3 separate regions of the Homo sapiens genome follow, and all the other regions are linked to region 3. Evidence: fine-mapped expression QTL. A gene starts in region 3. Each other region holds a variant in brackets. All regions are shown on one strand. Distances are from middle to middle.

The links. PIP is the estimated chance that this variant, and not a neighbour inherited with it, causes the effect. A credible set is the group of variants that fine-mapping cannot tell apart.
Region 1: its variant is the best candidate, but not a certain one, in a credible set for the expression of BAZ2B-AS1 in whole blood (INTERVAL, PIP 0.51).
Region 2: its variant is the best candidate, but not a certain one, in a credible set for the expression of BAZ2B-AS1 in whole blood (TOPMed, PIP 0.76).

What each region holds. Positions count from the first base shown.
Region 1 is chr2:159,554,567-159,558,793 of GRCh38, reverse strand. BAZ2B (bromodomain adjacent to zinc finger domain 2B) reads left to right here. Exons shown (of 37, transcript NM_013450.4): 2 at 2,929-2,971. Among named protein-coding and RNA genes, the nearest start is that of BAZ2B-AS1, 59 kb to the left of the region's middle. The variant C/T (reference allele first, on the strand shown) is at 2,230.
Region 2 is chr2:159,592,541-159,596,767 of GRCh38, reverse strand. The region is part of intron 1 of BAZ2B (bromodomain adjacent to zinc finger domain 2B); the gene reads left to right. Among named protein-coding and RNA genes, the nearest start is that of BAZ2B-AS1, 21 kb to the left of the region's middle. The variant G/A (reference allele first, on the strand shown) is at 2,168.
Region 3 is chr2:159,613,264-159,617,490 of GRCh38, reverse strand. It overlaps BAZ2B-AS1 (BAZ2B antisense RNA 1), which reads right to left and starts at 2,197. Exons shown (of 2, transcript NR_110588.1): 1 at 2,038-2,197; 2 at 1-1,741. BAZ2B (bromodomain adjacent to zinc finger domain 2B) reads left to right here and starts at 943. Exons shown (of 37, transcript NM_013450.4): 1 at 943-1,249. RefSeq lists enhancers at 854-923, 1,174-1,253, 881-1,407, 2,464-2,992.

The DNA.
Region 1 (4,227 bases), 59 kb after region 3:
TTCATTGTATTTTCTATGTCTCTACTTCTTGAACTTAAACAAAACAAAAAACCCTGCAATTCCACTTCTCTTATTTCCCATGGGCCCTACTTATAGGTCTCTGCCAAATTATGCTGGCTGTTCTGTTTTTTTCTTCATATTCCCTTGGTGAACTTGCCCACAGTCTTGGCTTGAACTGTACTTTTATATAACTGATTTTCAAATCTTGAACTCTTCTAAATTTCTACCTGCTGGAGCCGGGCACAGTGGCTCACGCCTGTAATCTCAGCACTTTGGGAGGCCGAGGTAGGCGGATCACCTGAGGTCAGGAGTTCAAGACCAGCCTGACCAACAGGGAGAAACCCCGTCTCTACTAAAAATACAAAAAAAATTAGCCAGGCATGGTGGCGCATGCCTGTAATCCCAGCTACTCGGAAGGCTGAGGCGGGAGAATTGCTTGAACCTGGGAGGTGGAGGTTGCGGTGAGCTGAGATCGCGCCATTGCACTCCAGCCTGGGCAACAAGAGCAAAATTCCATCTCAAAAAATAAATAAATAAATAAATAAATTTCTACCTGCTGGTGGGAAGCGTCTTCATTTGAATGGCCTATGGTGACACTGGCCTGTCCTATTGTTCTAAATAAAAGTCACCCCACCCTGCCACTTCAGATTTCTTTCATTATGTGAGTGAGAATCTTTGAAGTAATCTTTCACTTTTTTGCTATCCTTGTTCCTAATACTTAGTTTAGCATGAAGCCTTCTGGTTTCACCATTTAAGATTTGGGTTTCCCATTCCCTCTGCATTTCCTCTTCTTCACTATCCAGACCCTCATTATCATACACCTTTAATTCACTACCCGCGCTTTCCCATCACCCCCTGCCTTGCTTTTTTTTTTAAGCTTCCCAAATGCTTCTTGCAGTGACTTAAAAACGTATACCAAGTTGTTATGGCATATTTTCTTTAAATAGATAGTAATTCTTGAAGAGTTTTTATTTAAACTTTCTTTTGGATCCTTTGTAGCTCTTGACATAATGCTGGATGCAGTAGGAACTTGATAAATACTTGTTCACTCATTCATTCAGTAGCTAATTAGCTATTGGGTTCCAGGTACTAAACTTGTGCTCCAGTGATCTTCCTTCATGGAGTTAAAGCTAACAGCAGCCTCTGGTGGTAAAGGAAGGCCTCTCTAAGGAGGTGGCGTTTGTTATGAGACCCGATTGAAGTGAGAAAACCAGTCCTATGAAGATATGGAGAACAATTGCTCCAGGCAGAGGGAAGAGCAAGTGTCAAGGCCCTGAAGTGGAACAAATTTGATATGTTTGGGGATTATCAAAAGGGTGATTGTGACTGGAACATGGTAGAAGCAGGAAATGCAGTCAGGGCACCAGGTAACAGAGGGCCTAAGAGGTCATGATAATAAGTATTGTGGGTTTTATTCTAAGAGCTGCTAAAGCCATTGTACAATTTTGAGTAAGGGAATGATGTGATCTGATTAACTTGCTTTAAGAACAGAGGTAGGTACTTGAGACCGGGAGTTTGAGACCAGCCTGGGCAACATGGTGAGACCCCGTATCTCAAAAAAAAAAAAAAAAAATTAATTAGCCAGGTGTAGTGACACACACCTGTAGTCCCCAGCTACTCAGGAGGCTGAGGCAGGGAAAAAAAAAAAAAAAGAATAGAAGTAGGGAGGCTATAATGGTAACATAGGAGAGCCAGTAATCATGAAGTAGTAAGGTAAAATTAAGGATAGAGTGACGAAGAGTAGTTGGTAGGACAGACTAGGTGAAAGGTCTGAGGTAAAAGAGAAACCAGGAAAAATTCAGTTCTTTGTGCTTAGACAAGTCATGTATCATTTCTAAATTCTGTTTTCCTGGAGTCTATAATAAGGAATATCTCTTTCCTGCCCCTTTGAAGGATTCGTTATGAGGACCTGATAAAATAATACATGAAAGTCCATTATGAACCTTAAAATGCCATAACCATGTGTTACTTTTTGATACTAAACATTTAAGGGCTCATCTCAAATTAGACCTTGTTAATAAAGAAATTTCCAGGCTAGGTCCGGTGGCTCATGCCTGTAATCCCAGCACTTTGGGAGGTCAAAGTAGGTGGATCACTTGAGGCCAGGAGTTTGAGAACAGGCTGGCCAACATAGCGAAACACTGTCTCTACAAAAAATACAAAAAGTTAGCTGGGTGTGGTGGTGCACACTTGTAGTCCCATCTGCACAGGAGGCTGAGGCACAAAAAT[C/T]GCTTGAACCCAAGAGGCAGAGGTTGCAGTGAGCCACGATCGCGCCACTGCACTCCAGCCTGGGTGAGATTGAGACTCTGTCTCGAAAAAACAACAAAAAATTCCAAAAATTAAGATTTCACAGGGATAAACTTGAAGCCATTTACAGTTTAGGAAATAGTTTTTTCCTGTTCTAAATTCTTCCCAGTGATATTTTCAATCTTTTGATAATTTTGTCGCTATTCATAAATATTAGCATGTGGTAATGTCTCCAGTATTAAGTAGATGACATTTTGGTTCTAATCTGTACTGATAATCATAGACAGAAAAGTATTTATAAATAATACCTAATTGTCTTCAGTTTGTGACGTATTTAAGACATTGTTTTTCTCTTCTGAGTACGTAATTTGAAGACAAATAAAACTTGTAACCCAAATGTCCTACAGCTTGTTTTTTAATATGTTATGTTCACCCTAGGGTGTTGGTGATTATAAACAAAAACATGATCTGCCATACTATAATAAATAATGATCTATAAATAAACTCCAGTCCTTTTATGCTTATTTTTGTCATACTGATTATATGGACCCTGATACCGTAGGTTAATTTCAATATGACTTACAGCATGAAGAAAGACACAAATTTTAAACAAACTTTTTAGTTTCTGAAATTTCTTAAGTATGCTTCAGCTGATTGCTAATTCTTGTTTTCCTATTGCAGGTTTCCCAACAGTGATGTCACAAGATTGACCACATTGATCACAGTAAGACCAAAATGATAGTTAAGCTTTTAAGGAAGTTTGGTTTTCTCTGAGAATGAGAATTGACTTAGAAAACATATATAATTTGAAATTATTATTTCTTTTGCTAGCCAGTTGAATGTTAACATTTTAAATGAATCATATCTTATACTTCTAGCTAGTTATTTAAATACTTTTAAAATATTACTTTAAAGGATTTAAAAAACATTTAAAATGAAAATTACTTTTAATTTACAACTGAAATTACAGGCCTAAATATACTAAATTATTTCAGTGTGACTTAAATTCTGAACGTCATCTTTTTTGAGTTTTTATTTTTACCAGAAAATGACAGAAAGGTTAAGGTGATTCCACATTAGGAAATATATATAAAAGTAAATTACTTGAGATTGTAATGAATTATTAAGGAAAGATTATGAAAATGTAGCCTTGGTAGGCTGGGCGCGGTGGCTCACGCCTGTAATCCCAGCACTTTGGGAGGCCGAGGTGGGTGGATCAGCTGAGGTCAGGAGTTCGAGACTAGCCTGGCCAACATGGTAAAACCCCGACTCTACTAAAAATACAAAAATAGCTGGGCATGGTGGCACACACCTGTAATCCCAGCTACTCGGGAGGCTGAAGCAGGAGAATCACTTGAACCCGGGAGGTGGAGGTTGCAGTGAGCTGAGATTGTGCCACTGCCCTCCAACCTGGGCAATAGAGAGACTCCATCTCTAAAAAAAAAAAAAAAAAAAATACACACACACACACACACACCCCCCACATACACCACATACCACATATATATAGCCTTGGTAGAGTTTTTAGGCATCTTGCTTAAATTTTTTATTGATATTTATAGGATTTATAGAGTCTTCCAGATATGGAGAGTTTTTTGATAAAAGGATGGTTCTCTTAAGTAACTGATACTTTTTAATTTTATTTTAAGTGTTAATTTCTGTTGTGTGTAAGGACATATATTACCTAAAGAAAAACTTTTCCAGGGCCTTTATCCACATTAGAAAATTCTAAGTGATAAAATCTGAATTACAATCATGAACTTTATATCATTTTTGAAAAATTCTCTTAAATAACAGATAAATAAATTTCTACCAAATTATTTACTCCATGATCCTGCTTCTTCAACTGTTTTAATTTAACTCATTAAATCCAGAAGCATTAATTATTAGAAGTATAAATTCACATATCAATAATGTTTTTATTTATGTTCAATCTTTTTTTTTTGAAAACTGGTTCATTTGTTAAGTTTAACATTTTGC
Region 2 (4,227 bases), 21 kb after region 3:
ATAAGTGGGAGCTAAGTTATGATACGAGGATGCAAAGGCATAAGAATGACACAGTGGACTTTGGGGATTCAGGGGGAAAGGGTAGGAAGTGGGGCTGAGGGATAAAAGATTACAAATTGTATGCAGTGTATACTGCTCAGGTGTTGGGTGCACCAAAATCTCACAGATCACCACTCTTGTAACCAAACCTCACCTGTTCCCCAATGCCCTATGGAAATAAAAAATTAAAAGATAGAAAAAAATAAATAAATGGAGAAAAAACAAAAATAAAATGTTTGGTAGCTTCTTTTCTATGTTAGCTGCTATAAATCAAGACAAATTTACTTTCTAGGTTAGGTCCTTCATTGTCTTTTATATTCTTGAACAAACTTTAGGGCCGTGCTTCTAACAGGATCTGTGGTGTCACGCATATTTTTATAAAAATACTAAAATTTGCTAAAATGCAATATATTAATCATTGTTGTCTTCAAATGAAACAGTAAATAAGCGCTTAAAATAGTTCTGAGTCTTAATTTCCAATATGGTAAACATCAAGACTTACAACCTATGTACAATGAAAACTCTTTTGGAGTCTTCAACAAGTCCTAAGAGTGTAAAGAGGCCAGGAGACCAAAATGCACAAGAATCCGTTCTTTAGGACAATACTACTCCTTTTCCTTTAAAATAAATGCACATACCGAGCTGTGATTCCATGTCATTGTTGCTCCTGGTATAGTCTGTTAAAAGAAAGACTTCAGCCAAATTTATTTAAAGTGTTTAATTGAGCAAAGAAAATTCACGAATCAAGCAGCCTCCCAAGCCAGAGTAAGCTCAGAGACTCCAGCGTAGCCAAGTGGTGGAAGAAGATTTATGGACAGAAAAAGGAAGTGACATACAGAAAACATAAGTGAGGTACAGAAATAGCTGGATTGGTTACAGCTTGGTATTTGCCTTAGTTAAACACAGTTGGAACAGTTGGCCACATTTGATATGCCAAAACTGGGTGATTGGCACAAGAGTGGGCTATGGACTGATAGTACCTCCGCTTGTTAGATATAGTTCAGAATGTACAGAGAAGCCTCTAGGTTGAATTTAAAATATGTAAAGAGGCAGCTTTAGGCTAAACTTACATAACAGATTTCAATGAATCATATTAATTGTAACTTTTAGTCGAAGTGACTAATTTCTGTTTTACAGAGAAAAGTTGGAGGTGAATAATTGAGAACTGTGTCATATACCAGCATTTTAGCAGACTAGTAGAATTCATGAGCACACACAACACCACTTTTTACAGCACGCATACCTCTTTTTCGCCTCTTAAAGTGGCAAAAATTGACATTTCCACTAACATGACCTAAAACAGCTTGTCATTAGTATATAAAAACAAGAAACAAAAGTGTATGTTTAGCCTGTAATCCCAGCACTTTGGGAGGCCGAGGTGGGCAGATCACCTGAGATCAGGAGTTTGAGACCAGCCTGACCAACATGGAGAAACCCCATCTCTACTAAAAATACAAAATTAGCCAGGTGTGGTGGTGCATGCCTGTGATCCCAGCTACTCAGGAGGATGAGGCAGGAGAATCGCTTGAACCCAGGAGGCGGAGGTTGCGGTGAGCCGAGGTCATGCCATTGCACTCCAGCCTGGGCAACAAGAGCAAAACTCCGTTTAAAAAAAAAAAAGTATATGTTTAAAAGGATGCATAGTAATCAATGTTTCAGTATTTTGCTTAGAAGTTATTACGCATTGAATAATTATTTAATATCAGTCCAAGGTTTTAGGCTACCTAAAGATTTGAAAATTATCTTCAAGCTGCCATGCTGCAAAATATACTTACTGTTGAAATAAAAATTTGTTGGGCCATGCCCGGTGGCTTGGGCCTGTAATCCCAGCACTTTGGGAGGCTAAGGCAGGCAAACAGCTTGAGCTTAGGAGTTTGAGACCAGCCTGGGCAACATGGTGAAGCCCTGTCTCTACAAAAACTACAAAAAATTCACTGGGTATGTTGGCACGCGCCTGTAGTCCCAGCCGCTTGGGAGACTGAGCTGGGAGGATCCCTGGAGCCTGTGAGGCGGAGGCTGCAGCAAGCCATAATCACGCCACTGCACTCCATCCTGGGCAACAAAACAAGATTACATGTCAAGAAAAAAAAAAAAACTGTCAAAATAATGACTCAATTTACTTGAACAT[G/A]AGAATTTATCTGTTTCATGTTGTAAACTTTAAGGATTAATGCTAGCTTGTCCGATTGGTTAAAGCCATAAATTTTTAAAATTAGAATGTATTAAATTAGTCCCATTTGCCAAAGATTTACCTTTCTTTTGTAAACTTGGGTTCTTAAGATTAAAAACTAAAATACTTAGTTTTTCTAATTACTTTTTTTTTTTGAGACGGAGTCTCGCTCTGTTGCCCAGGCTGGAGCGCGGTGGCGCGATCTCAGCTCACTGCAAGCTCCGCCTCCCGGGTTCATGCCATTCTCCTGCCTTAGCCTCCGGAGTAGCTGGGACTACAGGCTCCCGCTACCACGCCTGGCTGATTTTTTTGTATTTTTAGTAGAGACGGGGTTTCACCGTGTTAGCCAGTATGGTCTCGATCCCCTGACCACAAGGTAGGCCGCCCGCCTCGGCCTCCCAAAGTGCTGGGATTACAGGAGTGAGCCACCGCGCCCGGCCGACTTTTTGTTTTTTAATGCACATGCAGAATATTAGAAGTTCAGTGTTTTTATTGTCTGAGAATTTAGTTCAAAGAGAATTGAAAGGCCTGGAAATGGATAGTGGTGGAGGTTGCACAGTATTGTGAATGAACTTAATGCCAGCTAATTGTACACTTAAAAATGGTTAAAGTATGTGCTCGATCTCTAATTTCTAAAACAAAGCAGGGACAGGCCTGGTTAGTACTTGGATAGGAGAATGTAGGCTTTTTAAAAAACTGGCAAAAATGGCAAATTTTATATTACAGTAGTCCCTGCCTTGTCCCCGAGGAGATACGTTCCAAGACACTCAGTGGATGCTGCCTAACCCCCAGTGGATGACTATGTTTTGTCAATCTAATAACTAGACAACTATTAGGTGACTAACAGGCAGGTAGCGTTTATAGAGTAGATATGCTGGACAAAGGGATGATTTGTGTCCCAGGCAGGTTTGAGGGGGAAGGCATGAAATTTCATCATGCCACTCAAAATGGCACACAATTTAAAACTTGTGAATTGTTGATTCCTAAAATTTTCATTTTAATATTTTTGGACGTTGGCCAACTGCTCGTAACTGAAGCCTCACAGTGAAAATGTGGATAAGTGGGGACTACTGGTATGTGTATTTTACCACAAAAAACAACCCCCAAAACAAAAAGGATAGTGAAAGGGACAGATAACTTGGTATGATGCCCTAGATAGGACATAATCTTTTTTTTCCCTTTGTTAAAGTCTTCCATAATTTTTCCTCGCAGGAACATTATCCTAAGAGGGGTAAGATTTCAACTGATGGAATACATAGAAGTACATTCCAGATTCTACAAAGATAAAATACAGAGATTTGGTCAAAGTTTGCATGATCACTGAGGAAAATAATGATAGATTTAAAGGTGGAAATATAGATTTTGGACATACTCTTTGTTCTCTGATGGTACAGATTAGCATATCATATGTTTTATTAAGTGAACATGTATTTTCTTTTTATTACTTTAGTTTTCATATGGAGTTGGGGGCTTAAATTTTTGTTTCCCTTAGCAGTAGAGTAAGCCCATTTGGCATGAGTTTTGGCCAAACTGCATCACAAATCTTAAGGCTTTGCTTCATCATTTATTTGCTAAGTATCTTCTCCAGGCAAGGAACTCAGTGTTGGGGTGAGAGGGAATAAAGAGATGAATAAGATACTTTATCAATTTATCTAATTCTGTTTAGTAAATATTTCAAAACTTAACAGGGTAAAACATATTTGTTATTGGAGTTTCTGTAGTTCAGGAATCTCGTAGTGGCTTAGTTAGGTGGTTTTGGCTTAAGATCTCTCAAGAGGTGGCTGTCACGCTGTCAGTTGGGGCAGCAGTCATTGCAAGGCTCAACTGGGGCTAGAAGATCTGCTTCCAAGCTCATATAGTTCTTGGCACGCCTTTTTTCCTTGTCCCTGTTCTGTTGGTGGGAGGACTTAGTTCTTGATCACATGGTCATTTCCATGGTGCTGTGTCTGACATGGCAGCTTGCTTCCACCAAAGTGAGTGGGTGAGAGTTGAGAGAGAGACAGAGTCTCTTTTTAGAATGA
Region 3 (4,227 bases):
AACTTCTAAAAAAAAAAATACGTATCTTCTTGGCTAATAAAGTGTTATCAAGATTAAGGCTTTTAAAAAAATTGTTTTTAGGAATCTATAGGATGGGGTGCGGGAGGGAATGGGGCCTATTGTATCTTTAGTTTAACTTGATTGGTTGCAGGATTTGGGAATTGGGGTTGGGGGAGTGGAAGGGTAAAAACAAAGTTGGAAGAGATTCTGGGGGTAGACCATAGCATATGACTGCATTTGTAGTTTAAAGGAGCAAAGGGCTACCAGTCTTACTCATAACTTGATTTTTAAAAAGTGTTCAGTGCCTACAATTTGCTATGCTTTTTTTCTAATCTCTCAGAAACTTGAAAAAAAGCTATCGAGATTACCTTTTACAGTGTGTGCATATAACTTTAAAACGACTATTTTAACGTCTTTTATTTAAATTTTATTTTAACTTAGTGCATAAACATTACAGCCAGTTTAACTTGTCCGTGGAAAGGCAGTAGAATTTTACCCCGGGACCGTCTTGCATACTGCTTTTTTTGAGTTTTAACATCCGCAAAATCTTGGCATATTAATTTAGTTGGGTTGTAGAATTCTGAGTTTAGGAACAAAAAAAATTTAGGTGGAGATGGTTGACCTATGCTCCCTACTCTGTAGCTTTTGTTTTTTTAAAAACTAAGTTTTAAATCCCGTTTTCTGTCCTGTCTTCTTTAAAAGCAAAACAAAACATTTTAAGTTTCTTAACTTTTTCCTGGGACAAGGAACGGTGCAAACTCAAAGCTACAGTATTCTTGGAAAGAAGAAGCAACCCCCTCCCTTGGCTCCTTTAGGAGCTGATAGGTCATTTATTATTGGAACTGAAATGGTATAAACAATTCTCTCTCTTTTTTTCCCTTGTTAACAGCAACTTTCATTGTTAGAGAGAGGAGAGAGAGAGAAGCCTTGTTGGTTGACGTCACTTGGTTCATGAAGCCTTCGCCTAGAAGTGAAGCTGCTGAACAAACCTTGAGAAGAATCATCTCCTGCTTCAATCTGCTGCTGGATAGGAACTAATCAGAGAGAGAGAGGCGGAAGACGGAGAAGGAGGGAGTCGAAGGCTTTCCCGATCACAAATCTCACCTCCACTACAACTCTCTTTATACTTTTCTTGCAGAAATAATAATAGAAATAAGGAGGTGGTGGGGTTTCCAAAAATCTTAACCTTCAACCATCTGGGGAAAAGGCAAAAATCCCATCTACCGCAACTCTCAGTTCGAGAGTAAAGGTGAGTTTAAAATCCTCGGGCGTGAGGGGTGCGGGTGAGGATGTAAATTCCCAGTGTTACAAAGCCGGTGGAAACAGCAGCGGAGAAACTGCGCTCGGGCAAGCGGGGGACTCCGGAGTTGCTGCGTGGAGGCGCTCGCCCCGCCGCCCTCTCGCCCTCCGCCGCTGTTTATCCTCGCCGGTCGGTGCGGCTCTTTGTTGTGGTGGCCGGAAGGCTGGGGTGGTTCTCGGGGTCCCGAGTGGAGTTTGGGGGAGGAGGACACGGAGATGTGCCGTCCTGGGTGGGAGGTGGGGGGTGCGGCCTCAGGAGAACGTAAACTTTATTCCTAGAAGCCGGTGCGGGACTTCGCTGGAGTAGGGCCGTGGGTTGTGCTCCCGGCCGGGCAGGCGCTGCCGCCGCGAGTCCGCCGCCTTTGTGCCGGCCGCCCTGGCTTCGCGTCTCCTTCCTCTTCCCCTTCGGCTTCCAGCGCTCAGGTCGCCGCCAACAGTTTTGCTTCTTAAAAAACAACCTCTGTCAGCGTTGCGATGGCCGTTCCTACCCCGGAATATCCGCTGCTCCCCCACTCCCTGCCGGGGTAGTTTCTGGATCACCCCCCACCCCCGTCCGCCTCCTGCTGCCCTTTTTTGCCTCCGCCCCCTCTTCCCTGTCGGACTGACGAGCTGCGTCTGCCACCCCCACTCCCCGGCTTGGGCCTCTAGCTCTCCCGTGTGTAGCTGGAGGCTCTGAGTTTACTGAAGATGAGCGGGGGTGGGGGTGGGGCAGGTGGGATTGGGAAAAGATCTGGATACCTGGGAAGGTCTATGTCAGCACGCAGAAGGTTTGAGGAGCATTGCTTCTCATACAGTAAGGTCTGTGCCTTGGTCTCATGTTTTAGCAGTTCTTCCCCGGGAACGACCGCCAGCTCCCAACTCCTCTGCTTCCCTCTTTTAATCTTCTTGTCGCTACCCCTCCCCCCAGCCCCCGTTCTCTTTCGCGGCTCCCTCCCCTTTAAGTAGTTTCACGAACCCCAGAATTGGGATTTGAGAAGGGGAAGGAAGTGTTTGAAGAGTCAGAGCTGGCTCTGTTGTTTGGGAGATTTTCTCTTCTTTTCTTTCTCCCTCTGTATTTATCTTTTGTCTGTTGCTTCCTTATAAAGAGGGAAGCAGCTGCAGTCCTTGGCCGAGTTGTTGAAATTTATCCCTTTGTGTATATTACAATATCCTCCATTTTTTTTCCTGCCCTCTAAACAACAAGCGTTTCGCCATCTTGGGCAATTTTATTCCCAAGTCTCTCTCTTTTTTATTTTTGAGGAAAGGAAAGAAGTATTAGGAAGTGTGTCTGGATAAGTCTCAAAGTTTAGGGAATGTTCAGGGGGCCCAGTGACGTCATGTAAACTTTACGGAGAAATTTTCCCAAGAGTAAATTTTTTGCTTAATTTTTCTCCTGTTTTATAGGATTGTGTAACTTACAGGTTACTGATAAGTTGTGTGGCTTATTTTTGTGTTTTGCTCTCAAAATCAGTATACGAAGTCTGCGTATTGTATGTTTTGGTAACAGGTGGAAGATTATATGCAAAAAATGGTAAAAAACTTGTGCGTCATTTGTTATTTATCTGGTTTTTGTGTACTTTTTTTTTTAATTTAAAGGTTTCAACTGTTATCTGTAGTCAGTATATTCCCTTTCTTATTTGCTCCACTCTCCCTTATGGATTTTTTGAAAATTAGCTTGGTTAATATTTATGTATGGTTATTTTAGATTATCTGGCTCCCCGTTTCTAATAAAATGTTCTGGGGTTTTCTTTTTCTATTATTTATTTACATTTTGAAAAGAAATGACTATGGAAAATACCTTAAGATAATGGATACTTTAAAATTTAGTAGCAGATATTAAGTCAAACAATTATTGAGTATTTAAGAGGCAGAATTGATTTTAAAAGTTATTTTATAATCGCTAGCTATAAACTCTTTGTCAGCCATTATGAACAGATAAACAAAAACTAGCACTGTTTTAATTTGCTTGTCTAACATAGTTTTTCGCCTCACAAAAGTTGGTTTGGTCACATGACCAAGCTTAATGATACACTGACTAGTATATAAATAAGAGGCACTGTATATTGAATGGGAAAGTGGAATTCTGTCTCCTGTAGTCATTTTCAGTCAGCATATTTACATCTCTTCTAACAAGGACATGAAACTGTCTGTATTTAATTTGCATTCTCTTTGTCTTCTGGGTTGAGGGAAAAACACTGACTACAATTAACTTAAAAAAAGCTAATAGAAACAATTCTGAATACATTGAAAAGGTTTGTGTAACACACAGAAATTTATGTTCTATATGGTAAGTTTTTATTTCTGTAGCAGTCTTCTTTGGTGTTATCTATTTATCCAGGAATTTGCTTCATGTAATATGCTATATAGAAAGCTTGACTGAGTTGAGTGTCTGCCATTTATGTGAATTGTAGGTAGGTGAAAAATGTTTAAATAGTTAAAAGCACATAGAACAGATGGTTCTAAATTATACATGCAACAAAGGACTAGAAGATTTGGCAGATTATAAATGGCAAGCAACAGAGGATAAGCAGTTTAAGAAAATGGTAGTTAAGTACATTTGATGTCTCACACCTATTGTAAACACTGTACATATTATTGTCACTCTGCTGCATAATCAGTAATTTGGACAACATTAAGACACTCGTATGGTTCAGATAGAAAAAAGTAATTTTTACAAGTATTTGAAACAAGTGGTTGAATTTAAAATTATTTTAAGCCTACGATGATGAAGAGTCTTTTTTTTTTTTTTTTTTAGAAAATCAGATTGTATGCTTTAAAAATACAAAGTTATTTATGAGAACTTAATATTGTGTTCTTATAATGGTTGGAGAGAAACAGGAATGGGTACATATTTTAAAATCCAGATAATAGTAGCTTCACTGTTCTCACATGTTAAACTAGTGCCGAATTGTAGTACCATTTACTCTTACAAACACTAATGAAAAAATA